Linked DNA regions of Homo sapiens: all the other regions are linked to region 1. Evidence: fine-mapped expression QTL. A gene starts in region 1. Each other region holds a variant in brackets. All regions are shown on one strand. Distances are between the middles of the regions. Region 1 holds the start of PLB1 (phospholipase B1). Region 2 overlaps PLB1 (phospholipase B1). Region 3 has its middle 42 kb from the start of PLB1. Region 4 overlaps PLB1 (phospholipase B1). Region 5 has its middle 31 kb from the start of PLB1. Region 6 overlaps PLB1 (phospholipase B1). Region 7 overlaps PLB1 (phospholipase B1).

The links. PIP is the estimated chance that this variant, and not a neighbour inherited with it, causes the effect.
Region 2: its variant is fine-mapped to the expression of PLB1 in whole blood (INTERVAL, PIP 0.96).
Region 3: its variant is fine-mapped to the expression of PLB1 in whole blood (TOPMed, PIP above 0.99). The same link has a PIP of 0.9 or more in lung, monocytes and neutrophils.
Region 4: its variant is fine-mapped to the expression of PLB1 in whole blood (TOPMed, PIP 0.99).
Region 5: its variant is fine-mapped to the expression of PLB1 in whole blood (TOPMed, PIP above 0.99).
Region 6: its variant is fine-mapped to the expression of PLB1 in whole blood (TOPMed, PIP 0.92).
Region 7: its variant is fine-mapped to the expression of PLB1 in whole blood (INTERVAL, PIP above 0.99).

Annotation. Positions count from the first base shown.
Region 1 is chr2:28,494,229-28,498,644 of GRCh38, forward strand. PLB1 (phospholipase B1) reads left to right here and starts at 1,832. Exons shown (of 58, transcript NM_153021.5): 1 at 1,832-1,941. The coding sequence starts at 1,887.
Region 2 is chr2:28,632,911-28,637,326 of GRCh38, forward strand. PLB1 (phospholipase B1) reads left to right here. Exons shown (of 58, transcript NM_153021.5): 56 at 34-129. Among named protein-coding and RNA genes, the nearest start is that of PPP1CB-DT, 120 kb to the right of the region's middle. The variant C/T (reference allele first, on the strand shown) is at 2,631.
Region 3 is chr2:28,451,970-28,456,385 of GRCh38, forward strand. No RefSeq gene overlaps it. Among named protein-coding and RNA genes, the nearest start is that of PLB1, 42 kb to the right of the region's middle. RefSeq lists enhancers at 1-274, 275-788. The variant G/C (reference allele first, on the strand shown) is at 2,250.
Region 4 is chr2:28,643,956-28,648,371 of GRCh38, forward strand. PLB1 (phospholipase B1) reads left to right here. Exons shown (of 58, transcript NM_153021.5): 58 at 1-187. Among named protein-coding and RNA genes, the nearest start is that of PPP1CB-DT, 110 kb to the right of the region's middle. The variant A/G (reference allele first, on the strand shown) is at 2,179.
Region 5 is chr2:28,463,053-28,467,468 of GRCh38, forward strand. No RefSeq gene overlaps it. Among named protein-coding and RNA genes, the nearest start is that of PLB1, 31 kb to the right of the region's middle. The variant G/A (reference allele first, on the strand shown) is at 2,521.
Region 6 is chr2:28,620,005-28,624,420 of GRCh38, forward strand. It overlaps PLB1 (phospholipase B1), which reads left to right. Exons shown (of 58, transcript NM_153021.5): 47 at 261-328; 48 at 596-639; 49 at 875-974. Among named protein-coding and RNA genes, the nearest start is that of PLB1, 130 kb to the left of the region's middle. RefSeq lists an enhancer at 1,786-1,875. The variant G/T (reference allele first, on the strand shown) is at 2,049.
Region 7 is chr2:28,601,077-28,605,492 of GRCh38, forward strand. It overlaps PLB1 (phospholipase B1), which reads left to right. Exons shown (of 58, transcript NM_153021.5): 37 at 176-256; 38 at 823-888; 39 at 1,745-1,845; 40 at 2,890-2,971; 41 at 3,579-3,683. Among named protein-coding and RNA genes, the nearest start is that of PLB1, 110 kb to the left of the region's middle. The variant A/T (reference allele first, on the strand shown) is at 1,781.

The DNA.
Region 1 (4,416 bases):
TTACTTCTGCGCATGCCCCATGTCCTTTCCACCCCACCTCCAGCTGGCCTGCACATGAGTGGGGACCTTGGCCTATTCAGCCCAGGCAAGTTCAGTGATGCTCCTCAAAGCTGCTGGTGGCATGGAGCTGGGTAAACTCCTGACATCCTTAGTGGGACAGCAGCTCTGGCTTCTCATTGAACTTGGGGGCAGTTTGGTGAAGTTGACAAGTGTCTACATATCCAGGGGCATCTGTGCTCACTTGTCCCCCACAGACCTTGGCCTTGGGTGTATTTTCTTCTTCCTTTTCTGTGTGTCTGTGTGTGCTGCCCTCTTCTAGGCTCTGGAACTAGCTGATGGCCAGCTGGACTAAGTGTGTCAGTGTCCACACACCTCTGGCATGTCCCAATACCCCCCTACAGTCCTGAGGCTTAGGCTAAGCCTTTGGCATTGGCTAAATCAGTGGTGACCCACAAGTCACATATTTTCTGAGCAGTTGAGAAAGGGAGACAACATCCTAAAACCAGAGATTCAGGAACAAAGGGCCACTCACTTCGTCTTCACTTTCTACTCAAGACAATAGAGGTTATAACAGTAATTAAAAACAATTTTTTTTTAATTGAGATGGAATCTTGCTCTTGTCCAGGCTGGAGTGCAGTGGTGCAATCATAGCTCACTGCAACCTTGAACTCTTGGGCTCAAGCAATCCTCTTGCCTCAGCCTCCCAAGTACCTGGGACTACAGGTGCATGCCACCATGCCTGGCTAATTTATTTTTATTTTTTGTAGAGATGGAGTTGCCCAGGCTGGTTTTCAAACTCCTGGGTTCAAATAATCCTCCTTCTTTAGCCTTCCAAAGTGCTGGGATCACAGGTGTGAGCCACTGTGTCTGGCTGTGATTTTTAAATATGAGAAAAGTGGGTCAGCCAGGAGATCAGAATCTGAGGTTGGGTCATGGGAACCAGCCCTAGAGTCTTAGCTAGACCTCAGAAGTCAGGATCCCAGCCTCACACCCACAAGCATGGCCAGAAAGCAAGGATAATTTAAATATATTTGTTCCTATCAACCAAGGCAATTGTTTCTTGATATTTGTGTAAAAAATTTAAATTCTACTCTCAAGGGTATTTGTCACTCAGGCTTTAAATGCCAGCTTTGTCTGCCCAGTTTAGACCCAGCCTGCATTCCTGACTTAGTTTACCCAAAGGAAACGGCTGATTTTGTCAAACTTGGTTCCCCCTCTCTGGCTTGTATCTCTGAATTCAACATGCAGACAACAAATCTATGGTGTGCACATCCACCCAACACAACTGGCCACCCATGGGTTTGGAGATGGGGGGAACAGAACAAACCTCTCTGTGTCATGCAAACCAGGGAACCTAGCAGAGCTTCTGAGACACGGTGGGAACACGTTTCACATTTGGAGGTAGGTTTATGGTTTACATTTGTTACAAGGTACTTTTGATCTCCTGGCTTACAACTGAGAAAGCTGAGGCCACGTTAAGGGATACACCCAAGTTCCCACAGCTGTGGTTGATTTGGAATTCCGACCAGCACCTGGGATTCCCAGGCCCACGTTCTTCCCAGCAGACCCGAACACCGGCAATTTCTGGGCACCCACCATCATGGAAGGCTGTATGGAGGCAGCTATGCGGCCCTGGTCTGTCAGTGTCTATGACTAGAACATGCTACCCATCATTGACTCATCTGCCTTAAGAACTCTTCCGCCTAAGTGTTAATATTTATCATTTACAGCCCGCCACTACCCCCTTTCAAAGGTGAACACAGTAAAATTTATGACAGGTGCTCTATCAGAACACAGAGGAACATAAAAGCAGGAGGAGGTGTGATAGCCCATCCATCTGCTGGAGCAGCTCTTCCAGAGGCCCGAGTCACCTGGAGCATTCTGGCATGGGGCTGCGGCCAGGCATTTTCCTCCTGGAGCTGCTGCTGCTTCTGGGGCAAGGTAAGCGTGCCTTTTGCTCAGAGGACAACCAGTGGTTTAGCCCCGCTGGTGTCCCATGTTGCTTAGGCAATGGGTGTGTGAGAGGAGTGTGTGCTTTTGAAGAGATAAAGCACAAAGCGTACAGTTCAAGAATAAGAAGTCTGGTTTGCCTCCTGCGGAATGGGATGCAGAGGCTGCCTACACAGGGTTACATGTCCCAAAGGCTGCCGGGAGCGAGGCAGATCTTGGGACAGGAGAGAAGTGCAGTCCGGTAGCAGTACCATGGTACAAAAAAAACCCCTGGATTCTATTTGTTTGTGCTTTGTGGCTTTGGGCAAGTTCTTCCACCTCCCTGGACCTTGATTTTTTTCATCCTTAAAATGGAAATACTACTACTATGCACATTTTGATCATTACTATTACCATTTATGAGCTTTGTTTTGTTTTTGAAGGACAAAGGAAGACAGATTTCCAGATGATAAATTCTAAAAGATTGCCTACATTCTTTAGTGCTGCTAAACAGAGTGCTGAGCTTTCATTGAACTGAGTGGGCAACCAGCCAGGGCTTTCCATTCCCCCCAACATTAATGACTGTGGGTAGATTGTGCCTCTGCCACAATCCCTCTCTGCCCCTCTTCTTCCCATCATTGGCTCTCCCTTTGCTTAGGAAGGCAGAATCTTTTAAACTGAAAAGGGCCTTAAAGATCTTTCATCTTCTCCAGATGAGAGGACGGGGTCTGGAGTGAGAAGGCACTTGCCCTTGACTCCCCAGAGAGAGTGGAGGAGGCATGGGACAGAGTCCTGGGCCTGCCTAGGGTCTGAGCCCATGCTTGAGGCTTCTCTGGGGCAAGTCAGTTACCGCTCTGAGCCGTGGGGGAGAATGACGATGCTTGCTATGCCTTCTGCACAGGATGATTGTATTTCTTTGATTACTGATGAGGCCAAGGAGTGTTTTCATAGAGATTGTTTGAGTTTCTCTTTTGTGAAGTGCCTGTTGAAGTCTTTTTCCTATTGATTTTTTAGGAGTTCTCCATATATGCTGTGTACTAGCTCTTTGGAGGTTACATATATGACAAATATCTTGTTCCACTCTGAAGCTTGTCCTCCTATGGGGACTTTTGATGAGCAAAATTCTTAATTTTGTGTAAATAAATGTAGACTACCCAAATGAGGACAAACAGAGGCTACTTATTCAGAGCTCGCTGTAGCGAGACATCACTTATGTTTGGCCAAGATTCAAAGGCAGGCAGGGGAGTGGGAAAGTTTCACAGTGGAAAAAAGGGAAATCTTCAGATCTGCTCTGGTTGGAGGTTGTTGGTATCAGGGACCAGCTGACTAGAGGCACGGCATCTGAAGTTATCCAGTTGGGAGTGTATCTGGCTTTCTCTGAGGGGTCCTGAGTTGGAAGCAGAGCAAAAAATAGAGAAGATGGCAGTCATTAACCAAACCTGACCATTCTGGGCTGATTGCTGCAGAGGCTGCAGTTTGGTTCTCTGGCCTGGCCGATTGCAGACTGTGGCTCAGAGTTCTGTTATCATATGTGGTCCCACCGTTGTCCATTTGTATATTCTCTATTTTTTTTTTTTTTGAGACAGAGTCTGGCTGTGTCACCCAGGCTGGAGTGCAGTGGCTTGGTCTCAGCTTACCGCAACCTCTGCCCTCCAGGTTCAAGCAATTCCCCTGCCTCAGCCTCCTGAGTAGCTGGGATTACAGGTGCCTGCCGCCGTGCCTGGCTAATTTTTGTATTTTTAGTAGAGACAGGGTTTCACCATGTTGGCCAGGCTGGTCTCAAACTCCTAATCTTAAGTGATCTGCCTGCCTCGGCCTCCCAGAGAGCTGGGATTACAGGTGTGAGCCACCGTGCCCGGCCTTTATTCTTAAGTATATGTATTTTAAATCTTCCTTTATGGTTTGTGCTCTTTGTATCTTAAATAACTCCTCTCCTACCTCGAGGTCATGAAGATATCTTATATTTCCTTCTAAAAGCTTTATAAATTTACTTTTCTCGTTTAAGTCAATCACCCTACATCTGGGATTGACTTTTATGAATAGTATATGAGAGGAACCCAATGTTGTTATTATTATTTCTTTTTGAGATAGAGTCTCACTCTGTCACCTAGGCTGGAGGGCAGTGGTGCAATTATGGCTTATTGTAGCTTCAACCTCCCAGGCTCAAGTAATCCTCCCACCTCAGCCTCCCAAGTAGCTGGGACCACACACCCACTCAGGTTATATAATCAAAATATTGTGTTCAGGCACATGCCACCATGCCTGGCTAATTTTAGTATTTTTTGTAGAGAAGGAGTTTCACCATGTTGCCCAGGCTAGTCTCGAACTCCTGGGCTCAAGCAATCCTCCTGTCTTGGCCTTCTAAAGCACTGGGATTACAGGTATGAGCCACCACATCCAGCCCCTCATTTTTTTAAATGCAGATACCCAGTTGTCTCACTACCATTTATTGAAAAATCGGTTGTTTCCCTACCACTGTGAAGAGCT
Region 2 (4,416 bases), 140 kb after region 1:
CCAGGATGATAACCTCCTTGCCGTTGGTTGCAGAGAGGGGACACTGACCTCACCTTCTTCTCCGAGGACTGTTTTCACTTCTCAGACCGCGGGCATGCCGAGATGGCCATCGCACTCTGGAACAACATGGTGAGCAGCCAAGGGCCTGGTGGGCCTTGTCAAGGGGGGATCTAAGGATATTGACACTCTGTCTCACAATGGCAAAACTACTGGAGACATGGCTCCTTTCTCCCCAAAGCCCAAAGTGGCAGCACACCTTATTGGTCCTGATAGATTAATTCCAAAGGGAAAATACCCTATATTTATCCAACACCCTTTGAAAGTTATACAAACACACACTCACACAACTTTATTCTTTGTTCCTTCAGCAATGCCCAGGTACTGCGAGGGGATCCCTTTGTAATCAGATAGGTTGGCTAGATGAAAATACCAACTTCTACCTCGTACTGTGTGACCTTGGGCAAACGATCTCTCTGGCCACCTGTATCAACATCTATAAAACAGTGAAAACAAGACAGGTCTCAGACAACGCATTGAGATCATGTGTACATGGCACCTAGCACAATAGTTAGCACTCAGCAAATGTCACCACCATCAGCCTTCCAAGCACTCCGGGCTCAACTCATACCCAACTCATTTCTCTAAACATCGAAAAGTGGAGATCCACACAGCCTGTTTTCCGAGGCTGATACCTATTCCAGTCCTTTCTGATGGGAAGAAGGGACCTTATGAAATGAACATACAGTCTGGGGGTCTTTCAGGGACACCTGCCTGGTGCTTCCACTCTGCCTTCTGTGGCTGGCCACCAGCAACTGAATGGTTTCCGCACAGCACTTGACCTGTCACCCCCAACAACTGGATCCTCTTGCACGGAGCAAATGAAATGCCTTCCCAACCCAATGGTTTCTTTTAATCCAGGCTCAGTGGGTAACACAATCCCCACCCCAACCTGTATGTTCCCTCCTTTGTCCTATGACAACTAAACAAGCTACATTCCAGCTCCTTTTATCACAGTTTCAGGCCCATAGTGTCTCTGCCAACCACCGCTGTGCAAACGTTCCCACCCCTGTCAGCTCATCCAGTATGTCCAGCATCCCACTCGGCTGACTCACAATATTGACTTTCTCCTTAGCTATACCATCTCCTCCTCTCTAGCAACCTCTTCTTTTAAGAACAGCATGTAAACTGGCTTTATCCTTGGCCTAGTTAATGGCAGACTCAGCTTATGTCGACTTCCATTGTCAGGGGGTTTTCCTCCTGTGGACATCACGTACCTGCCCACTCCAAGAACTTCTATTGTACTCTTTCAGCCCAAGACTCCGGATTGTAACCAAAATGTCTTTGAGTTTGCCCCACGATTTTTAAATCAGTTTATATGGTATAATTCCTGTTTCTTTTGTGGATTTTGTTTTGAAGGCGGTTGTCCTTCACTGGCTGAATCATGTGACTTTATTCCTTTGTAAAAATCTTCCCAAAGAAAGGGTACCTATTCCCTGTTCCTTTTCCCCTGAGACCTCAGGGGATTCCACAGATGCCCTTGGCCCTTCCTTCCCAGTTTTTTCATCAAGGTATGGCCTTCCTACCAGGTGGCACTCCAAGTCTGCTTAAATCTGGGACCCTCCAGGAATCTCCTGGGGCTGGATAGCCATAGTGACGGCTGGAACATGAAAAAGAGTCCATTGGTTTCTTTTCTTGTGAATTAACAATGTAGCTCTGGCCAGGCACGGTGGCTCATGCCTGTAATCCCAGCACTTTGGGAGGCCGAGGCAGGTGGATCGCTTGAGCCCAGGAATTAGACACCAACCTGGGCAACACAGGGGAGATTCTGTCTCTACAAAAATAATCAAAATATTAGCCAGGTGTGGTGGTGCATGCCTGTAGTCCCAGCTGCTCAGAAGGCTGACGTGAGAAGATCACTTGAGCATGGGAGGTCAAGGCTGCAATGAGCCGAGATGGCACCACCGCACTCCAGCCTGGGCAATAGAGTGAGACCCTATCTCAAAAAACAAATAGAAAAAAAAAATATATGTAGCTCTGGCCTTCTCTTCTAAAGCAGTTCAGTAGCTCTTCCCATTCACCCAGGTAAGAGGCCTTTATTTCATAAAGATAAGTGGGAGGAGTTTAGATATGAAAACAAAACGTAAACACCGCACTGGAGCTATTGTGGAAACAAAACAAGACTGTCCATGGTTCCCCAGCCATTATTATCTCAGCCATACCCCGAATTTCAAAATAACAAAAACAAAACTAAAGCCATCCAGGGGTTTCTTATCCTAGGCTCTATAATTTGGGGAAATAATTATACAGTCTAATGTTTTCATCCAAAGCCAATCTTAGACATAAAGCTGTAGCATGATGCCAACTTTTCAGATCGGCTTCTGGCTGGAATTTCACCCCTAGAGTAACAAAAAATAAATAATAGACCATTAGAGCTGGAACAGACTGAGAGGTCATCTAGCCAGAACATTCTGTAACTAAAGCATAGAAACATGAAGCAGTTTGCCCAACATAACACAGACTGTTCATGGCACAAGGGGGATTACAGACCAGGTTTTTCTAGTCCTTTCCTGGTGACCTGGGCATGCCACCACCCTCCCCACTGCTCCCAACCTGATAAGCACATATATACC[C/T]GGTGAATTCATGTCTCACAATTAGAGTCCTATGACATAGTGTCTGCAGGCTTTGGCTGATGTTCCCAGGGTTCCCTACTAGGAAGCAAAAAGCACCTTAAACTATTTCATCTTATTTCATCTCCTGCCCCTCCTCTCACGTCCTTCTCGAGACTTTTGCAAAGGCAAAGCCAGAAGCTCCAGCAGCACCAGGGGATATTTTCCTCTTCCTCTGCCTTCTTCTGTCTTCTTATCTGAAGAAGTTTCTCTTTCCCGAGGCCTAGTCCTCTACTGCTGCCTCTACTCCCTCTTCTGCAGAAATCCTGCTCTCAGCCAGTGTTTGTATCTCCCCAGGTGCTGGGTGACAGCTCCAGCCTCCTAACTGACATCCCTGTCTTCAGACTTAGAGCTCTTAGAATCGTGACTCTCAGCTCTGGCTGCATATTAGAATCATTCAGGGACATTGTGTATGTGTGTATGTATGTGTATGTATGTATGAATGTGTGTGTATGTGTGTGTGTGTATGTATGTGTATGTGTGTATGTATGTATGTATGTATGACAGAGTCTCACTCTGTTGCCCAGGTTGGAGAGCAATGGCACCATCTCAGTTCACTGCAACCTCCGTCTCCTGGATTCAAGCGATTCTCCTGCCTCAGTCTCCCAAGTAGCTGGGGTTATAGGTGCATGCCACCATGACCAGCTAATTTTTGTATTTTTAGTAGAGACAAGGTTTCGCCATGTTGGCCAGGCCAGGCTGGTCTTTAACTCCTGACCTCAGGAGATCCACCCACCTCGGCCTCCCAAAGTGCTGGGATTATAGGTGTGAGCCACAATGCTTGGCCATCCAGGGACTTTTAAAACAATTAGTGCCTACAGCCACTTTGGAAAATTCTTTGGTATATTTAATAATGCTGAACACATGTATTTCCTGTGATCCAAGGATTTCACTCCTAGGTATATCCCCAAAAGAAAGGTATATATGTGTCTACCAAAAGATACACACAAAAATATTCACAGCAGCACTATTTATAAATAGCCCCAAACTAGAAACTCCCCAAATGTCCACTGACAGTAGGATGGGTGAGTAAACTGTGGCACATTCATACTAAGGAATACCATACAGGTCTGACCGCATCTGTGGCTTTAAACAAAAATCAAGCAGGGTGATGTGACACAGAGTAATGGCTGGGAAGAGGGAGGCCTCACTGAAGAAGTGACAGCTGAACAAACTTCAACAACATACAATAATATCTATAAAGTTCAAAAGCAAGCAGCTTGGCATATGGGGTTAGACGTCAGCATGATGGTGTAGAGACTCACTGGGGGATGAATAGTCCTGGAAGAAGGTGGAAAGGGGCTTTTGAGGACTATAATAGTCTGTTGCCTGACTGGATGCTGGTATGTTCATTTTATCGAAACTTATCTGTTGCTCACTTATGATTTGTACTCGTTTCTATGTGTATGTTAGCTTCAATTAAAAGTTTACTTGAGGCCGGGTACAGTGGCTCACACCTGTAATCCCAGCACTTTGGGAGGCCGAGGCAGGCAGATCCCCTGAGGTCAGGAGTTCAATACCAGCCTAGCCAACATGGTGAAACCCCATCTCTACTAAAAATACAAAATTAGCCAAGCGTGGTGGCACGTGCCTATAATTCCAGCTACTTGGGAGGCTGAGACAGGAAAATCGCTTGAAACCAGGAGGCAGGGGTTGCAGTGAGCCAAGATTGCATCATTGCACTCCAGCCTGGGTGACAAGAGTAAAACTCTGTCTCAAATTTAAAAAAAAAAAAAAAAAAAGTTTACTT
Region 3 (4,416 bases), 42 kb before region 1:
CAGTGGCACATTCAGAACCTCTGGCCAGGCTAGGACCATGAGAAGTGGGCTTTTCATAGGTTACAAGCCCTGTGGCCGTGGGAGCAGGCGGGGCAGGGACCCTGGTCAGCCTGATTCACAGGCCAGGATGCTGCCACCTGAGCCTTGTAACTGAGCCCTCGTGGCTCCTGAGGGTGGGTTAAGGAGGAGAAGGTGTTCCGAACCGGAACTCCTAACCAAGGGCTCTATCAGTCCTTCCACCTCCTGCTTCCGGCCCGCCCCACACCTACCCCCTGGAGGGCCGTGGAGTTTCTTTGATGCACGGCCTGGCTGTTTTTCCAGAACGTGGTTCATTTGCAGTCCCAGCCCATCGGGAGAGCGGCCTGAGAGTCTGAGGGCTCCAGCCCAGGGGAGAGGCTTGCTGGGGCCTGGCTGGGCTGAAGTGGTGGAGAGGGGAGAGGCCAGGCCCAGAACCTCTTTTTCCCTCTTGTGTTCCCAGGCCGGTCAGGCTCCTGCTGGGCGATTGATGGAGGTGAGAGGATGTGGGCTAGGGCTGGGTCTGGGCAAGGGCTCTGTGAGGGAGCAGGGTTAGGCACTCTCCCCCGCTCCCCCCACCTGCCTCCCACCTCCACTCTCTGCAGATAGCCCTTGCCCCAAGGCTGCAGCCCAGTTGACATCCCTGAGCCTGGGCCACCAAGCGCAGCTCCCTTGCGCCCTCTAGTGTCTGCCCCTCTCAGGTACAGGGTGCCTTGGGCCAATCTCTGAACCTAGAATTGACCTTCCAAACCGGGCCATTCCTAAGCATGAGGTGGACTCTGTTGACAATGATGCTGGGCAGCAGACGCAAAAAGAGACTGGGCCAGCTGTCTTTTCACTCCACTCAGGTCAGAAGTGCCCCCTCCCCACTCCACTGTGGTCCCCAGAACCATCTCTGGGAACCACCCCATTTGTAAATGAGATAATGCATGTGACGTGCTTAGCAAGGGGCTGGGAGAGTAGGGGACCAGTGACTATGTGGTCAATGAACAGCTATTAGCTCCACTAGGTAGAAGCAATGATCTGTTTGGTCCTGTGCTGGGGGCTCGTTTCCAGGGGGGAGGACAGAGAAGCTCTGTCCAGTGCTGCTGAGGCAGGAATGAGGACTCCATGTTCGGAGTCTGGCACGGAGCAGGAGGGTGATTTGATGGCTCGGTGTGTGTTGGCTGCAAGAGCAAATGCAAAACGTCAGCCTGAGATTAATCAAGACATCCTTCCACTTACCGTTTCGGGTCTTGTTGGGGAGTTTGGAAGGAAAACTGCCTTTCCAGCAAGATGTTTTGACATGATGCCTTTTCCCTGGCATGCGTTGTCTCCTTCTCCCCACCCATCCCCTTCGCCACAGCTTTAGGGATGACCTCTGCCCTGCTGGGTGCCCTTGATGACTAACACAGCAAGTGTGTGGACCGCCACCTGTCCTGGCCTCACCCACCTTCACCCTCCATTTCTTCATGACTGCCCCCGTGGCTTCTAGGGGGAAGGCCCCAGACAGGTTTGCTAAACTACTGACTCCCAGGGCTCCCTGACAGGGCCTGATGCAGGGTGGCCAGCGGTTGTGACCCCTAGACCAGGTGGGTCCCAGCACAGGGACCTGAGCCCCACCCTCAGGGAGCTGGCGGCTACACGGGGAGCGGTCACCTGTACAGATAAATCTAGTGGAAAGCCCCCATGGCCAGAACCAGGGCGGAGGGCCTGGGGCAGGCTCTGGAGTATAGAAGAGGGAAGGCGCCTTTGGAACAGACAGCAGAGAGAAGAGCCTGCAGGATGAGTGCGAAGGATTGCTGTGGACAGAGGTGGGCCAGGGCTCAGCTCGAGGGCTCCCAGGGAAAGGAGCCTGGGGTGGCCTGGGCACCGTGTGTGTGTGTGTGTATGTGTGTGCGCGCGCGTGCATGTGCGTGTGCATAGGTATGATTCAGGGAGACATAAGGGACTTTGGCAAAGTCAGGAGGATGTGGGGGCTAAGCAAACACCACTTTGAAGACTTCTCTTTGGCATGGGGTGTGACAAGCCAGGTCTGGTGCCTTGTTGAGGAAAGGGAGAAAACTCTGAGTTGGTTTTTGTGTTCCTCAAACCAGTTTGCCCACATCCTTGGCATCATCTGTGCCCTGTGAAGGGCCCGCTTGGAGCCATGCATGTCTGGGCCTGAGGGTGGCGGTGCCTACGTGAGGCCCTGCGGTCTCTTCAGGAGCTCCCCGAGAGGGGCACTTGGCCACTGTTGGAGCTGAGAGGGGCCT[G/C]GCCCAGCTCACCCGCCTCTCCTGCTTCTCACCCAGCCCCTGCTGCTGAGAGCTCTGGCAGCCTCCGTGTGCACAGCAGGCCTGGGCTCAGTCACAGGTAGCTCTTCTGTCTGCTCCACGGTGGCTCTCCTCAGGGCCTTGGCTCTCATGTGAGGCTTCCAGCTGCTGCTCACACTCAGAGCTTTGCATGACCAGCAACACACAGGCAGATAAGAGCATTGGGTCTAGGGCGAGAAAATCCTGGGTTCAAGATCAGGCTCTGCCATTTACCAGCTATGTGGCCTCAGGCAGGTTGAACTCTTTGAGCCGCAGTTATCTCATCTGTAAATTGGGGATAATAACACTTAATGGTACTTATCTCATGGGGTTGTCATGAGGATCAAATGAGATGATGTGTGTGTAAACACCTTACAGAGGGCTCCACTAATGGAAGGCATTATTATTGCTGTTTCCATACCACACGACACTCACCCAAGAATGGAAGTTCATGTTCTGACTGTCAATGACGTGTCCAGCATTCCTCCTGTGCTCATTTCATAACTATTCGTTGAGCCTCCTTGGTGCCAGGCACTGTTCTAGACTCTTGGGCCATAAAAATCAATAAAACACAAGATCCCTGCCTCCTTACGGCTGACCTTCTAGGGGAGAGACTTTCACATACCCCAATCTACTTAGCACACATTCCAACCTCTCTCTGGCATCTGCAAACTCAAGTCTGCAAGGTGAAGCAACATCCTAAGCTGCTAGGAACTCTCTCCATAAGTACTCATCCAGATGGCCTGGTGATACGGACAGGAGACAGGGAAATACTGGGTAGAAGAGGGTGGCTCCTGGCAAAGGCCCCACCCTCAAGCCTGAAGACCCACGGCCCTAAATGAGGACAGGCATTCCTGTTTTTGAGCGGAAAAAGTTGCCTTTTGGCCTGCCACACCCCCTATCCTGCACCCATATAAACCCTGAACCCCAGGCTTCAGAAACAGACGAGCAAGCCAGCAGACCAGCAGACGGACAGTGGAACGATGCAGTAGAGAAAGAGAGAGGAGGAGGAACATCTGAACATGGAGAGGAGTTTGACTGGGGACGGTCAGAGAGGAGTCCGGCTGCTGGGCTCCTGACTCCAGGGGAAGATCACCTTCCTACTCCATACCCCCCTTCTGGCTCCTCATCCGTCCCACTGAAAGCTACCTCTACCATTCAATAAAACCTCGCATTCATCCTTCAAGCCCATGTGTGACCCAGTTTTTCCGGGATGCTGGATAAGAGCTTGTGATACAGAGAGCTGTCACACTGGCCCTCTGCCCTTGCGAAAAGGCAGAGGGTCCATTGAGCTGGTTAACACATGCTGTCTGCGGACAGCAAAGCTGAAAGAGCTTTGTAACACTGGGGTTGCAGGCACCCACCTTTAGACACTACAGTAGGGCCAGAGCCCAAATGGCTCACCCTGGCCTCTGCACCTTCCCATCTGCATGCTCCACCTCCTGAGAGGGATTTGAGCAGCAGGGGTGACCGAAAAGGCAAGCGGCACATCCTGAGGGGGATCGGGGACCTCTCCTGTTTCACTGCAGAAGTCCTTTCGTGGCAAAACAAGGTCATGTTGAGACAACACTCAGAGCATTGTCGTGAAAAGGGAGCACAATCATTAAGAGTAGTTGCCCATTTTACAGATGAGGAAATTGGGGCCCAGAAAAGTTTAACTGCCTTGCCCTAGGTTATGCTGCTGCTCAGTAACAAAATAACTTAGTCAACAAATATTTGCTGAGCCCCTATTTTGTGCCAGCCACTGCTTTGGGCACTGGGGCACAGTCAGTGCCTTAGTGGAGCTTGCATTCTCTAAAGGGGTGACTTAAAATAAATATGTAAACAGGTGAGCTCATTTCAGACATGATGAGTGCTAGGCGGAAAATCATACAAGATAATGGGAGGGACAGTGACTTAGGAATGGGGTAGTTGGGGAAGGCCTCCGGGGAGGTGACACTGAAGTCAAGGAACCAAGCAGAGGACACTTCCGGTGGAAGTTATCCTAAATGGTGACCCAGATAAGAGACTCAAAGGATTCCCTACAGCTCACTTAAAAGGCAAAGGAGAAAATGTGGCTGTGAGTCCTCCTAGGGAGAGCAGGGGTTTCTGAGCTGTGGCCTGAGGAGCCAGGTGGCCCTCCTTGTAAAAC
Region 4 (4,416 bases), 150 kb after region 1:
AGATGGTCTCTTTTATGCTGCACAAAAGCCCAGGGAGGGGGTAAAGGGAAAATCTTTGAAAATAGAAGTGATGCTTGCGCAACACCGTGAATGTACTAAACGCCGCAAATTGTTCCATTTAAAATGATTAATTGTGTATCATGTGAATTTCACTTCAATAAAAAAGAATCCAGGGAGGTAGACATCATCTGCATTGTAAACCTCTCTCTGATCCTGAAGTCCGGGATGATAAAGAGCCTGAGTCACAATCCCGGATGCAACACTGAAATGCTGTGCCCTGAAGCTGCCTTCGCCAGCCTGAGCCCAGTGTCCCAGGCTCTGCATCTGTAAAAACTGGAGTAAGAGTACACATTTTGCTTATCTCACGGCGCTGCTGAAAAATAAGGAACCGTGTGTGAACCTCTAACTCTAAAATGCTGCACAACTGAAAATGGCCTTTTTCCTCGGTGAAGAGTTGGGATAAGGCCCAGACTGTTGGGGAAGATGTGAGACCCAGAGATGAGTTTGGGGAAATGGGGTAATAACATATGGGTGGAGAGTGCCCGCCTTCCTCTCAGGGAGGTTCATCACCTTATCTCTTTCTGTCACAACAGAGAACCCGGAGGACCTATACCCAGTTCCGTGTTCTTCTGGGCTTCAGTGTCTGTTTCTATACAATGGGAACAGCATGCATTCCCCTGCTTTTTCCTATAGACTGGAAAACGTGGTGACCAAGTCACACATCCCAGCTTATGCTCCCGGCTTAAGACAGTGTAACGACAAAGGTAACCCTTACACTCCTGGTTTGAGACAGTATAACGACAAAGGTAACATAGGAAGTCAAGGAGTTCGCTTCACCGCCCCTCCCCCCACCCCACCCTTTTTTTTTCCTGCAAGTTTCTATTCTTCCCGCAGCTCCTACCTCAAAGCAGCATGGATTCATAACCACAGGCTCCCCTCATTAGGGCTTGGGGAGGGAGGGTGTTGGAATCCACACTGCCAGAGTAATCCAGACTAAAACATCAACAAATGGTCCCAGCTGGTTCACCAAGGAACACTTGGCAAAACAAAGAAATCCTGTCTGGAGCGACACGGACACAGCCACAAACCAGTCACCAAATTCCCAGCAAGTATGTGCTAAGAAGCCAAAAATTAAAAATACGTGAGAAGCACCCACTTGAAATTGGTGGTATTACATACATACACTGGCTGTGCGCCATGGGGTTTTTCTGTAGGAAAATGTCCAGTCTAGCTAGAACGGCACCCACAGCCACACCATGAGCAAAGCCACCAAATACCTGAGGAAGCCACAGTCCATGGCACTCCCCATGGAGGCTTCTGAATTCAGAAAAGATAGATTCCTGTGACTTAAACCTGGTCCAAGTCTTCCTAAAGGACATGGAACTTTGAGCTCTGAAAAGATGGAGAATGGTTACCAAAAGCAATGAGGTTGTCGAGACTGGGAAAACTCCATGCAGATGGAGAGATGAGCATGGTGAATATGGGGACCAGGAAAAATGAGGATGGATGAGCCAGATATGGGTTAGAGGACATGATGGAAAGGATGAGGAGTTGATAGCGATTACATTGTTGTGATGGTTGTAACATCAGGCTACACTTGACTAGGGAATATAAATGTTAGTGAGAAAAGATTTGCACAAAGAAAATGCTAATAAAAGTTGACATAAAGTGCTTGTGCTGTGGTGGGCACCATGGGGCACAATAATGAAACTTCACACATCCCTATTACCATTCCCTTTCTACAGAGAAGGAAACCAAGACTCAGGGAAGAAGTAACTGGCCCAGAGTTATACTTTGATTACATAATGCGACATTTGTCCAAATGAATACTGGAGCCCAGAGTAGGGGGGGTAACCCAGAAAAATAAAACCGCCACTGGTTCCAGCAGTGAATTGGGCCAAATTGCAAATAAATGTGGTATAAAATAAAGATCTAGAATGTCTGATGGCACCATTGTTCCTCTGCTTTCAACTGGTCTGAAAAACTCAACTATCTCTAGTTAATAATCTATGATTTTTTTTTTTTTTTTTTGAGATGGAGTCTCGCTCTGTAGCCCAGACTGGAGTGCAGTGGTACGATCTCGGCTCACCGCAACCTCTGCCTCCCGGGTTCAAGCGATTCTCCTGCCTCAGCCTCCTGAGTAGCTGGGATTACAGGCATGCGCCACCTTGCCCAGCT[A/G]ATTTTTCTATTTTTAGTAGATACAGCGTTTTGCCATGTTGGCCAGGCTGGTCTCAAACTCCTCACCTCAGGTGATCCGCCCACCTTGGCCTTCCAAAGTGCTAGGATTACAGGGGTGATCCACCGTGCCCAGCAATAATCTATGATTTAAAACATTATGGGGACTAAGATTTCTTTTGCTAGTGTATGTGTGACATTATAGCACAAGCTTGTCCAACCCACAGCCCGCATGCGTCCCAGGATGGTTTTGAATGCCACCCAACACAAATTTGTAAATTTTCTTAAAACATTATGAGATTTGTGTGTGTGTGTGTGTGTGTGATTTTCTTTTTTAGCTCATCCCCTATCTTTAGTGTTAGTTAGTTTAGTGTTAGTGTATTTTATGTGTGGCCCAAGACAATTCTTCCAATGTGTCCCAGAAAAGCCAAAAGATTGAATACCCTTGTTCTAGCAGCTAATAAATCATTTAATTAGGAAAAACAATCCCTGTGAGAATCAAATGTAACAACTAGCAAGATTAGATCCACATATTTTATATAACAGCAGCACTGAAAAAAAGACTATGTATGTTTAGAAAGATAAAAGACAAAAGGAATTTAAAACATGAGGCAAGAACACCATGTTATTTTTTAAAAATAAAGGCAGATTTGTGAAAGAACTAAGAACCAGATAAAACTTCCAGAAATGAAATACATTGTTATTAGAGAAAAATAAACTTCAGTAAATGTGTTCAAATAGCAGGCTGGGCCCTTAGTGAACCAACATTTGTGTGTTTACTGTATACCCGGTACTGTTTTTAGCAGTAAGTCTGTATTTTTTATTAATTCTCACAATAGCCCCTTGAAGTAGGTGCTATTATAATCCTTACAGAGAAAATGAAGCATGTCCTGTATCTTTTCAGTCTTTTTGTAAGAATTAAATGAGATAAAAACAATACTCAAAAAATAGGTATTCAATAATTAGCTCTCTCTCTCTCTCTCCTTTCTATATCAGTATTAATTCCAATACAATATGATTCAGGGGCTTTGTAAAATAATCGCAATAATTAAAATATACTTGGCACCTTACAGTTTACAAAACATTTTAATATGTTCTCATTTGATCCATACCACAAACTTGTAAGATAAGCAAAGTACAGTACAGTGGTTCCCCCGCTTATTAGTGGGTGATACATTCTTTTGTTTTTTCTTTTTTGAGACAGAGTCTCGCTCTGTTGCCCAGGCTGGAGCGCAGTGGCACAATCTCAGTTCACTGTAGTCTCCACCTCCCAGGCTCAAGCGATCCTCCTGCCTCAGCCTCCCAAGGAGTTGAGACTACAGGCGCACACCACCACGCCTGGCTAATTTTTCTATTTTTTGTAGAGACAGGGTTTCAACATGCTGCCCAAGCTGGTTTTGAACTCCTGAGTTCAGGTGATCCACCAGCCTTCGCGTCCCAAAGTGCTGGGATTATAGGTGTAACAGGCCACCATGGCTGGCCTATTAGGGGATACATTCTAAGAATCCCGTGGCTCAGTGGATGCCTGAAACCATGGATAGTGGTGAACCCTATATATACTATGCTTTTTCCTATACATTCATACCTATGATAAGGTTTAATTTGTAACTTAAAGTGAGATGAACAACAATAAAAGAATTATGATATACAATAAAAATTATGTGAATGTGGTCTGTCTTGCCTACTCACCCTTCTTGTTTTGATGTTGGTGTGAGATGGTACCATGACTACGGGATGAGATGAAGTGAGGGGAATGAGGTTAGGCTACTATTGACTTTCTGACCTTGAGGAACTGAAACCACAGAAAGCAAAATCGTGGATAAGGAGGGGCGACTATATCATTAAGAAAATGTACCTCAAACTTAGAAATAAGTGACCACATGTCCTGTCAATGTTATTTAACAATATTCTAAGAAATATTTAGTTATCTAGACCGTACCTATGTTTGACTTTGTCATTTATTACTATTTAATTAGAGCTTAACGCTACGAAATTATGTTGACTTGTGGATTTCTGACCGGCAAAAAAGATAACCTCAAGGTTATGGTTTTATGCCCCTATAGCACATTATCCAGTTTTGTGTCTATTAGCAAAAGCATTTCAGCTTGCCAGGGCTTAGCAAAAGCATGACACTCAATTGTTCCACTACCACCACTCCCATCTTCGTGCAATGCTCAGAAGACACTGAACAAGTCACTCTAAGCTCAATCCACTGTTCTGGCAACTGGCACTGTGACATAG
Region 5 (4,416 bases), 31 kb before region 1:
TCCCACCTCAAGCCTCCCAAGTAGCCACCATGCCTGGCTACTTTTTTAAATTTTTATTTAAATTTTATTTTTTGTAGAGAGGTGTCTCGCTATGTTGCCTAGTCTGGTCTCACACTCCTGGCTTCAAGTGCTCCTCTGGCTCCAGCCTCCCAAAGCACTGGGATTAAAGGATTGAGCCACTACGTCTGGCCAAATGCTGATTTTTAAATTTTGTTTTGTTTTAAGCAAGCTATTAACTTGGTTGGATCAAGCTGTAAACCATCTCTTGAGCACCAGTTTAAATCTCAGTTTAGTTTGTACATTCTTATCTGGGCTGCTTGAGCCTGCCTCATGCATGCATGGACTAGGAATTGGCCAGAGATTTGGACAGTTTATACACAGAATTTGTGGTTCTTCTTCTCTGCGTCTCTCTGTTTATGGATTCTCCCTCTCACTTTCCAATGGCTGTGGTTGCCTCGAACTCTATCCTTTGATTCTTTAGGCCAGAAGGACTGCAGACTTTCTATCATCATTTTATCTGCCCTGTGTGACTCTACCATGGCCTGCCTTTTGGATAAAAGCCATAAAAACTGTGAAACTCATCGCATATGCATCTTCCTTTTCCAAGTAGTAACTCCTCTCCAGAAACTGCCTGCTTTTGTTCACACTCCAGGGCCTTCAGGTCGTTGTTTTTCCTATTTTGTTCAGAGTTTATGGTAGTTACCTGTAGGGGTTTATACAGCAGGAGCTCACTATGCTACCCTGGAAACAGAACTGCGAGAAGTTTTGTTTGGACACATTACATTTCAGATGGTCACAAGATATGCAAGTGAAGATGTGCACTAGCCAGTTGGATGTATGCACCCGGAGCTCTGGAGATAAATCATTTAACATTTGACAGGGTATAGAAGGTATGAAGAGTCATGTGTGTGGGTAAAATCACCTAGGCCGTGAGTGTAGATGCATAAGAGAAACAGGTCCAGAACCCAGATCAGTGCACTCCAGTGTTTACACACCAGCATGATGAGGAAGAAGTAAGAATGCAGATGAGAAAGAGTGGGCAATGTCGAAAGAGGAAAACCACAAGAGCGTTGTCTTGAAGTCAAAATGAAGAAAGTATTTCAAAAAAAGACAGAGTGACCAAAGGTATCAAATGCTGTTAATGGCTTAAGTAAGATAAAGATGAAAAGTTCACTACTGGGTTTAGCAACATGAAGGTCCTTGGTGAACTGACAACAGTTTTGTTCCAGTGGAAGACTCAGAACTCACTGAAACGAAGACTTGAATCCATAAGTTTGGAGAAAGCTTTCAAGAAATTTTAACTGCCAAGAGAATAGAAAAATAGGATTGAAGCTGGAGGGGGCTATGAGGTCAAGAGAAGTTATGTTTTGATTTTCGACATTGGGAAAAATTATATCATGTTGGTATGCCAGAGGGCATAATTGAGAGGGGATCATTGATGTGTCAGGAAAGTGAGAGTTGGGCCGGGTGTGGAGGCTCACACCTGTGATCCCAGCACTTTGGGAGGCCAAGGTGGGAGGATCATTTGAGCTCAGGAGTTCAAGACCAGCCTGGGCAACACAGAGAGACCCCATCTCTAATTTAAAGGAAAAAAAAGAAAGTGAGAGTACAGAATCCTGTGCTCCAATGGAGAGCCAGCCTTAGATAGAATTGTAGGCAGCTCATTCATAGCAACTGTCAAATCCACACCATCATTTTTTGTCAGTTCCTTCAGTCTGCAGATGATATTAAAGAAACCTATTCAATAAGTTAAGCAATTCAGGAATATGGAGACAGGGGATACAGACTATGCCACTAATTCATTGCCATACCCCAGGCGATCTTATGGAAGAGGCACTAAGGGGCTGAGATGGAGGGATGGAGGGAACAGGACTGGCCATGGGGTGGACTCCAAAGACATGATGCATGCAGAAGTTCCTGGCTTCCTCCTGGGCTAGGGTGAGGAGTGTGGCCAATATGCAAGTGTCAGGATGGTGGTGGTCACGGTGGGGAGGTATGTCTGCGAATGGTGGGACACACAGACCTCATTTGAGAAAACGGATAGCAGCTTCCCGAGGAAAGTCTGGAATCTGCCTGTGCACTCTGCTGTGGCCTCTTCGACTCAGGAATGAAGCCCATCAGAGCTTGGTCCCAGGCCTGGTTGTCACCTTGCTCCCATCAGGATTGCACTTGGTTGCCATCTTGCTCCACCCCTGGCCAGATAAAATTAATCTGAGACAGGATTTGGCTCACAGAGCAGGGTTGCCCCCACTCTGTCTCTGACCTAGTGGCTTTCAAACTCGTTTTCACCAATTTTACATCGTAATTTGGTGCACATACATATATGATATATAGACTTACATAGTATTGAAACAAAACTTTAATGAAACATTTGGTCATTTAATCACTTGTGATGCGCTCTGGTATTTTCCATTTTTTTTAATGCTAGTTACAACCAACGAAACTGATTTCATGACTTCTAACCTGTAGTTGGGAAAATACCACTGTAACCACATAGATGACTTTGCTCTCGTCTGTCTC[G/A]TTCTTTCAGGGTGATGAGCAGCATAAAGATTCCAAGAAGCCTCAAACTGAGTTGATTATCTCGGTGTATCTATCTGTTCCCATAGATTAGCAAATGTGAACTTTAGAGCACATTTATGTAAATGTACTGTTGGTTTCCCTTGACCTGACCTCAAACCTGACTGACTTTTCTGCACACTGAGAGCTACAGTGCTGAGCTCACCACTTCATTCCTTTGTTCTCTCCTTATCTCATCCACTGCACCTCACATTCCATCTTTCCCCACTCAGTCCCCCTGGGAGCCCTTGAAGTTAAACTATTTGAATCATAGACTATCACAGGTGAAAGAGACTTAAGAAGTGTTTGATACAGTTATCCCTTTGGTGTAGTTCAATGATCTCCAGTCTCTGCTTGCATTTCTCCAGTGACAGAGGGCTCACTACTTAGCAAGGTAGTTTCTTTCCTTTCTTTCTTCTTTCTTTCTCTCTCTTTCTTTCTTTTCCTTCCTTCCTTCCTTCCTTCCTTCCTTCCTTCCTTCCTTCCTTCCTTCCTTCCTTCCTTCCTTCCCTCCCTCCCTCTCTCCCTCCCTCCCTCCCTTCCTCTCTCTCTCTCTCTGTCTCTCTCTTTCTTTCTTTCCTTTTGGCCAGATACAGGGCCTTGCTTTGTTGCCCAGGCTGATCTGGAACTCCTAGACTCCAGCAATCCTCCTGTCTCTGCCTGCCAAAGTGCTGGGGTGGCAGGCGTGACCCACGGCACCCAGCCTCATATTTTCAAAATATGCCAGAAAGCTGCATTTTAAAATATAAAATCATCCCATTAAAAAATGCCAACTAATTCAAAATCTTTTTTAAATTTTTCATGAGCTGACAGCCCAGGCTCACTGAAGACACCATGACACTCACATCTGCCTTCAGAGCCCAGTTCTGCGCCCGTAGTGCTGGGAGACTGAGTCTGGGCGGAGCCTGGTAACTTACCCACCCAGCTTTTACCCAGGTCTCTCCAGACGTTCTCAAGTCATTGCTGTAGCCAGGGCCAAATTCAAGAAAACAACCACATTTTCTGAAGAGCCAGAGGGAGCTGGCCTGAGTCTTGCACTAGTGGGTTTTTGTTTGTTTGTTTGTTTTTGGTAAGTGGAGAAAGCAAATGAACCTGGAATACTGTGTCAAAGAAGGCTTTGGATGGAATCCGATCCCCTACCCCGGCCAGGGTACTTACCTACTTGCTTCAGTCTTTCCTTAGCTTCTAGCTTCCTGAGTAACTTCCAACTTTCCTTCTCAATGACTCTGTTTGCTTATCTGTTTGCAAGGTAGTGAACATAAAAATCTTTTTGTGCACTTTCAGATATAAAACATGCAATGACAGGATAAAAATGTAGTTGCTTATCACAAAATTATAAAAGTATCATGGGATCCACAGAATTATAGACTTTTGGAGCAAGAATGGGCCTTTCAACCAGCTAGCTGGCCAAATGAGGTAAACGAATGCAGGGAGTAATTTGCCTAACGTTTTGATGCTGGGCCAGGTGTGGTGGCTCACACCTATAATCCCAGCACTTTCAGAGGCCAAGGTGAGTGGATCGCTTGAGCCCAGGAGTTCGAGACCAGCCTGGGCAACATGGTGAAACCCTGCCTGTACAAAAAAATTAACCAAGTGTGGTAGTGGTCCCAGCTGCATAGGAAGCTGAAGCAAGATGACAGATCACTTGAGCCCAGGAGGTCAAGACTGCAGTGAGCCATGATCGTGCCACTGCACTCCAGCCTGGGTGACAGAGCAAGACCCTGTCTCAAAAAAAAAAAAAGAAAGAAAGAAAGAAAGAAAATACATAGATACAGAAAGGTGAGGCATATAGAGGGCAAACCTCCCAGCAAGTCAGGACCAAAGCTGAGGTGACATCAGGCTCCTGCCCTCAGCCCCTGA
Region 6 (4,416 bases), 130 kb after region 1:
AAGGGAACAGAAAGAAAGGGGCGGGTGCTAGGGAGAGTGGAAAGGAGGAACCAACAGGACTTGGTTACTGGCTGTAGGTAAAGAACTGAGGAGAAGAATGTATCAAGACCACTCCAAGTTTAATATGGCCTGGAGAAAAGCCGGTACTATTTTTAGAAAAGGCAAATCCAGGTCCTAGCTGCTACCCCAGGGCCAGAGGAGGCTCTTCCAGTGCCCTCAGCCTATACCCCAGCCCTGAACTTTCTTTTTGCTTTTTACAGACAGCAGTGGGAGCTCGACCAAACAACTCCAGTGACCTACCCACATCTTGGAGGGGACTCTCTTGGAGGTGAGGATGTTCTTGATGCATGCTCTATTGATGATGCTCTCTCAGAGAGGTGTGAGTAGTGTGTTTCCTGTCACCCCTCCAGGGATGCAGTTGGGTCCCCAGGTCCCAGCGCTGAGACAGGAGACTCAATGCTTGCATTACCCCTGAGGGTGATGGGAGAGACGCCCCAGGGGCCCAGAACCCGGTTCCGGTTCTGGCTTGTGCATATGTTGACACAGGGAGCAGCATGTTGGTGTGAGTTTAACAAATATGCTTTCTCCTCCCCAGCATTGGAGGGGATGGGAACTTGGAGACTCACACCACACTGCCCAGTAAGTAGCAGCCCAGAGAGGCACCATCACTGTGGCCGTCCTCCCTGGGGCCAGGGCCTTCCTGCTGGAGGAGGGGAAGAGGAGGTTATCTGCAAGAAGGGAAGTCAGCCAGCCCTGAAAAGCCCCAGAACTCCTGTGTCCCACCCATGTCCCCACCCTGCATGCTCATCTCAGTTACTGTGAGGGTCCTGCAGGCTCTCACCTGTGCTCTTCTCCTCCTCCTCCTCCTCTAAAGACATTCTGAAGAAGTTCAACCCTTACCTCCTTGGCTTCTCTACCAGCACCTGGGAGGGGACAGCAGGACTAAATGTGGCAGCGGAAGGGGCCAGAGCTAGGTGAGTAGATGCCGTACAGGAGGGCGAGTGGAAGGCAAGACTGAGACATCAGGGTGGGAAACCGGAGGAGAGGAGGGTGGTGTCCAGAAGCCTGGTCCCAGGGGCAATAGCAGCTGTGCAGGACTTTCTATGTGAATTATCTCCTGAGATCCTCACACCCTTGGACAGGGGCACTGAGGCTTATAAGCTTTCCAGAACCACCAAGATTATCCAGCAAGTTATCAGAGGAGGCAGGATCAGACCATGCCTGAATCAGGAGCCTTTGCTCTGACCACTGTGCTATTACCGCCTCTCCAGGGCAGCAGGAGGCGCACATCTGCCCTGGACCCGGGCGCTGTCCCTGCTGGCTCCAGCTCCACCTCCTGCCCAGCAGGTCAAACGTGCAGGGTGGCTCTCAGCACCTCGACAACTGAGTGCATGACCCGGGGGATAGCTGCCCTTTCTCTCTCCCCACCTCACTTCAGTCTTTGGCTCTGAAAAAGCTATATTCTGACACTAGGGAGTTAGATGTCAGGGCCCCCAAAACAGCATGGTGGCTGTTTGTTTTCACTGGGATTTCTGTTGTTGACAACAACTCAGATAATTAAAGCTGAAATGCCTGACCAGGCTCATTGATTTTCTGCATGGAGCGTGCTGGGTGTATGCCTTGTAGAAGGATCACTATGCTCCGATCACCAGGGAAACGACACTGGCTTGACTCACTCTGTTTACAGGGAATGTTCCTTTCAGAAGTGGTAACGTGGGCCCCATGCTCTGTTTGAGTCTCTAAGCCACAGGAAGCGATGTCAGTTCCTCAACGTCACGAGCAGGAAGAAATTATTTTTCTGCAAAAACTGGGCTTTATGAGGTCATTATAGCAACATCTAATTACTGTTATTATTGTTATTATCATCATCATTTTGTTGTTCTTGTACAGTACAGGCTTCATTTTCCAGGAGGTGATTTCTCACTCTGTTGACAATCAAGCCCCTTCTTCCTTTCTCACTTCACTTCTCTTATTGCCTTTTCTATTTTACCGCTGCTCAGCTCCTCTGCCAGATGAAGTCAGTGGCCAGGGAAGTAGTTGAGAACATG[G/T]GGCTCCTTGTGGGTATCTCTGATGTCCAATGTTAGGGGAAAGGAAAGTAATCCATTGACTTAAGAAAGGGAGGTTGGATAATTGCTCTATAACTTTCCTTTATCTCTATTCTGTTGTTTATTAGCATAGATACAGATGAGTTCACCTAAAGAGAAACATACAAACCATAGCAGAACACCTAATATCATAGGGTGTGGGATCAGATCATTCGTGTCTACATTCCAGCTCCAAGGCTTGCTAGCTGTGTGACCTTGGGCAAGTTGCCTAGCATCTCTGAGTCTGTTTCTTCAGCAATAAATAGGGATAATAATAGTACTTCTCAGGGTTGTCATAAGGATTAAATGAGATAAATAATCCGTGAAAAGAATGTAGTACCACACATAATACCCACCAAAAAAGCAGTACAGTACAAATGTACCAAAAGTTTGCCATTTAATAATGGATCTTCAGTTTCAAAGTTTTTTTCATCTAACTTTCCTTCCATCAACCAATAAGAATTCATTGAACACCTGCAAAAGAGTGAACCCTAAGGTGGTTACTAAAAGATACAAAGGGCCAGGCATGGTGACTCACACCTGTAATCCCAGCACATTGAGGGCCGAGGTAGGTGGATCACCTGAGGTCAGGAGTTCAAGACCAGCTTGGCCAACATGGTGAAACCCCATCTCTACTAAAATCAAAAATTAGCTGGGTGTGATGGTACACGCCTGTAATCCCAGCTACTCGGGAGGCTGAGGCAGGAGAATCACTTGAACCCAGGAAGTGGAGGCTGCAGTGAGCCAAGATCGTGCCATTGCACTCCAGCCCGGATAACAAGAATGAATCTCCATCTCCAAAAATAATAATAATTAAAAATAAATAAAAGATACAAAGGAATCAAAAGATGAACTCCCTGGCCACGAAGAGCTTGCACTCTAGGTAAGGAGGCTAAACAAATGGGAAATAACTTTCTGAAAAAGACAATGCTGGGTATGGCAACAATGCAGTGCTTCGCATGGAGTACAATTAAGAGAACAGAAGAGCACACAGTATGAACTGCACTGTCTAAAGACAGATGCAGACCCAGAAGGGACCCCTGAAATCATCCAGTCCAACCTCTTCCTTTAAAAGATGGGAAAAGTCAATCCTAGCAAGATTCAGCAACTTGTACAAGCTCAACAGCAAGTTGGTAGCAGAGCTGAAAGTAGAACCACTGGTCCCTGGGGTAAAAAAGGAAATGCAAGATGTGTGGATCAGGGAGCCCAGAGAGGAGGCTCAAGGGAAAGTAGGACTTGGTCTGGGCCTGAAGGATGGGAAGAAGATGGCTAGGAAGAGGGGAAGAAGCGGCATTTGTAACTTCCCCTCCTACCCACGAGGGCTTATTGCCCATGGATTCTCTTAGTCACACCTTGAACCTGTTAAAAGGTTAAAGGCACTTCTGTGGTCACCTTTGACCAGAAAAGTCTTTCTTTATAGCTTTCTGGTATACTCATCAATAGCAATAATGTATGGGATACAATCCTAGATCTGTAAATTCTCCTTAATGAGAAACAAGGGTAGGGATGGTACCATGTGTGTTTGGCCACGTACCTAGCTTACCGTGGCCACCCAAAGATTTTCAGTGGCCAGCTCGCACTGGTTGCTGCTTTTATGGCTTCTTCCATGGACACTTTCATTGGCTATATCCCCTTTGCTGACCTAACTTCTCACAGACATTTCTTTAAACACAGCTTTATTGAGGTATAAATGACATGCAATAAACGTCACATGTTAAAAGGATATAATTTGGCTGGGTGCGGTGGCTCACGCCTCTAATCCCAGCACTTTGGGAGGCCAAGGTAGGCAGATTGCCCAGGAGTTGGAGACCAGTCTGAGCAACTTGGTGAAACCCTGTCTCTACCAAAAATACAAAAAATTAGCCGGGCATGGTGGCATGGACCTGTAGTCCCAGCTACTCGGAAGGCTGAGATGGGAGGATCACTTGAGCTCAGAGGGGTTGAGGCTGCAGTGAGCCGTGATCACACCACTACACTCCAGCCTGGGCAACAGAGCAAGACCCTGTCTCAAAAAGGATACAATTTAACATTGTACCTGTGAAATCATCACCACAATCAAGATGAAAAATGTGTTCATCACCCACAGGAGTTTTCTCAGGCCCCTTGGTAATCTCTCCCTCCTGCTCCTTCCTGTCCCTACCTCACACCCCAGGCAACCACTAACCTTCTTTCCATCACAATAGATTAGTTTGCATTTTTAAAAATTTTATATAAATGGGATCAAAGAGTATATACTTTTTATCTGACTTATTTAGCAAAATGATTTTGCGATGCATCCATGTTATTCGGTATACCAATAGTTCGTCCCTTTTTATGGCTGAGTAGTGTTCCG
Region 7 (4,416 bases), 110 kb after region 1:
ATGCTAAGAGTCTGTGGTCTATAAATAAACCTCTAAAATTCCTTCAGTTCAGAGATGCTGATTCCATTATTTCAAGTGGGCAAGGATGTTATAGAGGGTTGAATGGATTTCCTAGGGCAGGGATATTTTCATTTCCTTGTTGGAAATTATCAAGCATTTTCCTCCCTCCATATAGAGAGTAAATTTCCATGAAGACTGGAAGGTCATCACAGTGCTGATCGGAGGCAGCGATTTATGTGACTACTGCACAGATTCGGTAATTGGGGCCAGGTCCAGGCCTACTTGTTGTTCCTAACTTTGCCCAGTAGGCGTTGGAGATCTTCCCTGAGAACAGTTCCTAAAACCAATCCTAGGATTATCCACCTACACCTATGTCTGCACATATACACATACCACACACACACACACACACACACACACACACTTCTTACCCCACCACCCTCCAGGTCCTTGGCACCATCTCCATGTCCTAGGTGGTGAGGTAGCAGGTGGCAGATATATGGTATTTCTACTCCTCTCTCTTATAACTCCTGAGAATTCAGAAAGAGGAAACTGTAGCAAGCAATTGGAAGGAGGAGTCTCCACTTTCTGCTCCTGAACCAAAGCTCTGGCTGAAGGTTCCAGTCTTCCCACTGGCCCATCTTTGACAACAGCAAGTAGTCAACTGTTCATCTCAGATTTTGACATGGTGAGCTGGCCACAGCTGGAGGCTAGAGGGGGAACAAGTCCTCAGGGCTGGAGCCAGAAGGGAAGTTGAGAACTGCCCCACTGCCCTCCCACCCTAACCAGTTCCTCCTTTTCCTCCTTCCTGTCTCTTTCTAGAATCTGTATTCTGCAGCCAACTTTGTTCACCATCTCCGCAATGCCTTGGACGTCCTGCATAGAGAGGTGGGTGGGGGGCTTCCACAAGCTGGTAACAGCTCAAGCATGGTGAGGGTGAAGGTGGATGGGGGGAAAGAATGAGAGAAGAACCCCTTTCTCTCAAGGAGACAGCCAGGGGCATGGACTCCTTCCCTTTTCAGAGGTTGGGGTCTAACCCCAAGGAAACCTTATTTTATATGGAATCAGCCCAGAAGGGCCTCAGGTCTGAAGGAGGGAAGGCTGTTCCCTCACCACTACATGGGACACTCCTTGGTGGAATTGTCTAATGTCTCCCCACTACTATCCGGGACATTTTCTGGTGGTGGCAGCCAGGTGGCCCCCAGGCTGGGCACTGCCTTCTGAGCCACAGGGTGTGTCTAGAGCAAGCCCCTGTCTGGTCCTGCACCCAGCAGCACATTCCCCCTCCACCACCACCATCTTCTGGCAAGGACAAGCTGCCCTGGCTGCGTGAGACAGGGCACTCTGACCACCAGATGCTCCCCTGTGGGGGTTGAGTCTGCGTGCCTACTCAGCAGAGTTAGGCCAGTTTGGGCTGGAGGGAAGAGGTTGCCTATCTCACCGAAGGTAATTCTAATGTATCTGGGCTTGCTACATGATGGCTAAACAGAGATGATCTCTTAGTCTTTATTGTCCCACTCCAGGAGGTGCCATTGCCGCTGCAGCCCCTTTGGGTGGCACCCATGGAGTTGTGTGATGTACGGCCTGTAAGGCCCTACGAGGTAGCCCTGTATAGACTCCTCCCCAGAACTCAACTCCAGAAAGACCAAGCTGGATTGCTAAAGGAACCCATTCCTAGGGGCCCTGAGACAGCCCCAGGAAGAAGTGCCTGGAGCCCCCCTCTCATCTGCAGCTTTTCCCTTAGGTGCCCAGAGTCCTGGTCAACCTCGTGGACTTCCTG[A/T]ACCCCACTATCATGCGGCAGGTGTTCCTGGGAAACCCAGACAAGTGCCCAGTGCAGCAGGCCAGGTAGGCAGGTCCTGGCTGTCCCCACACTGGAGATGCCCTCACCTCCTGGTCTGGCCCACATGCAGTGGTGATGCCTCAGGGTCTTTGTGACTTGGTCTATCCATGTGTCCAAGTCTGTAAAGGAGGACTTCTGCCAGAACGTCCCCTTCCAGAGGCTGGAGCCATGACTCCCCTGTTACCCAACTTCAAGGTGCCTGGCAGGAACTTCTATGATACCAGGCAGCCACAGAGGGGAGGGATCAAAGTTGGGACAGAGGCTGGTGTTTGAGAGACAGGATAGCCTAGACTGTGAACATGGGCAGTGGTTAGGGAAGTAGACATATGTGGTCAAACTGTAACAGAAAGCAAGGAAAAGGTACAAGCAACTCAGTTACCTTTAGGGGAAGAAGAGAATTAGGAGGGACACAGGGAGCTTCAAACTGGGAGTGTTTTGTTTCTTAAACTGGGCCATAAGTACATGGATGTGTGTTTTATTATTCTTTATATCTTACACATCTATTTACTCAGCAAATCTTACAGAACTTCCTGTGTACCAGGCATTGTTTCAAGTGCTTTAGAAATCTCTCTCTTAAGTAGATGTGATGGGTGTGAAATAATTCATGATGAAACCAAAGGGGACACAGTAGGGCACTCATGTGAAAGAAGGAGAGGTCTAAGGCATAGCATCAGAGGCCCCAAAATATCAGCTCCAACACCAGAGGATGCATTTTCTTTTTAATTAAACACTAAATTTTCACTGCCCAAATTCATTTGCTCAGCTGAATAATCGGTTGCAGGCCCAGCACCTGCAGTCCAACACTTGTGCTCTGTTGGTATGAGAGGGTGCTCATTCCCACACTGGCTCCCTCCCTCGGGCCATCTCCAGTGCCCCTGCCAGGCCTGAAGCCTGCCCCTGAGCATGTGCGCCAGAGCCTCAAGGCTTGAGTGCTCCTAAACCAGGGCGGGAGGGAGCCTCTCCACCCCTCCCCTGAACCTGGGCAATCAGAACCAGCCCCTGATGGAAGCCTGAGCTCTGGGGCCTCCTGCCTCCCCCTCTTTGTGCAGCGTTTTGTGTAACTGCGTTCTGACCCTGCGGGAGAACTCCCAAGAGCTAGCCAGGCTGGAGGCCTTCAGCCGAGCCTACCGGGTAAGACCAAGAAGGGCACCATGCTGTGTCCTCTCCCCTACGTTCACTCTAACACACAGCCCAGAGCCCCTAGAGGAGGCACACAGGGAAGGAAAAGCTGGTCAGGGATTGTGGGGAGACGGGGAGCAGCCTGGGTGCCTTCCTCTGTCTCACGTGACTGTGGTGTCTCAGGTGCCCTGGTTGGAATCATCCCAGTAGGATCCAGGTGGAAAAGCCCTCATGGCCCAGCTACCGTTGAGGGCTTAACCCCAACTCCTGGCCCGTAGCCCTGGATGCCTCATGAGACCACCTTTCCCTCCCCCACTCCCACTCCAAAGGCAGGTGCCGAGCCTCTGGAGGTTCTTCCCAGGTTTTTATCCCTTTTGGGACTTCCTGCCTAGCCCTTCAGAGAGAGTAGTCTACTTACAATCAAAACAAAAAGGTGACCCAACCTGTTTCCAAATTCTCTGGAAAGGGACTTGCCCTCAGGTGATTTGTGTTCTCAAGGGAAAGGCTGAGTCGGCCCCTCCATCCAGGGAGATGGACTGCCCACCACCCCTACTCTTGCCTCACTGGGTCCTGGGCCCACCCAGGGCCTGGGCTGAAGACCCTGTGCATGTGTCCCCAGAGCAGCATGCGCGAGCTGGTGGGGTCAGGCCGCTATGACACGCAGGAGGACTTCTCTGTGGTGCTGCAGCCCTTCTTCCAGAACATCCAGCTCCCTGTCCTGGCGGTATGTCCCCTGCCCTCACCCATGGTACTCTTTTAGAGGAAGAAATGCAAGGCAGAATTGCCAGTTGCTTCCACGAGCATGTGCATAAAATGGGAAAGACACAGCTCTCCAGACGCTGTGCTGGCAGGTGCAGGCTCCCTGAACGCCTGAGCCACATCCGTATGTGCGAGGCTCCCATGACCCCTGTAACAGCCTCCATTGTGTTGAGCACCTACTAGTGCCAGGCACTGTGCTTCCCATAGATAAAACTGTCACATCTGCCTTTGGAAATGAGTGTGATCATCCGCATGGAACACAGGTGCAGAGATGTGAAGCGTCCTTCCTAAGATCATTTAGGAAATAAGGGACAGGGAGGCCAACATGAACACAGCCAGCTCCAGATGACTAGTTTTCTGCCACGCACGTGGTCTCTCTCGTGTGCAACGCTGCGGTTATAAGGGAGCATTCTGGGGGTTCTCTGTTTCCACCCAGGCCATGCCCTTTGCCTGGCACTTCCACTCTGAACAGAAGAGATCTGTGAGTGGACCAGGTGAGGACTGAGGTCTGTCCCCCTGGGCTGCCATCCCAAGAGCCTCACCTAACTGGAAAGCAGGAAGGAGAGCAGCTCTATGCACCCCCAGCACCTCCAGATGAAGAGGCTGGAGTCAGGGGACCCAACTACCCAGGCCTTCCCCAAGGCTTTGTTCCATTCTCCCCACCAAGACTACCAGGACCAGCAGACCAAAAGCTGGGA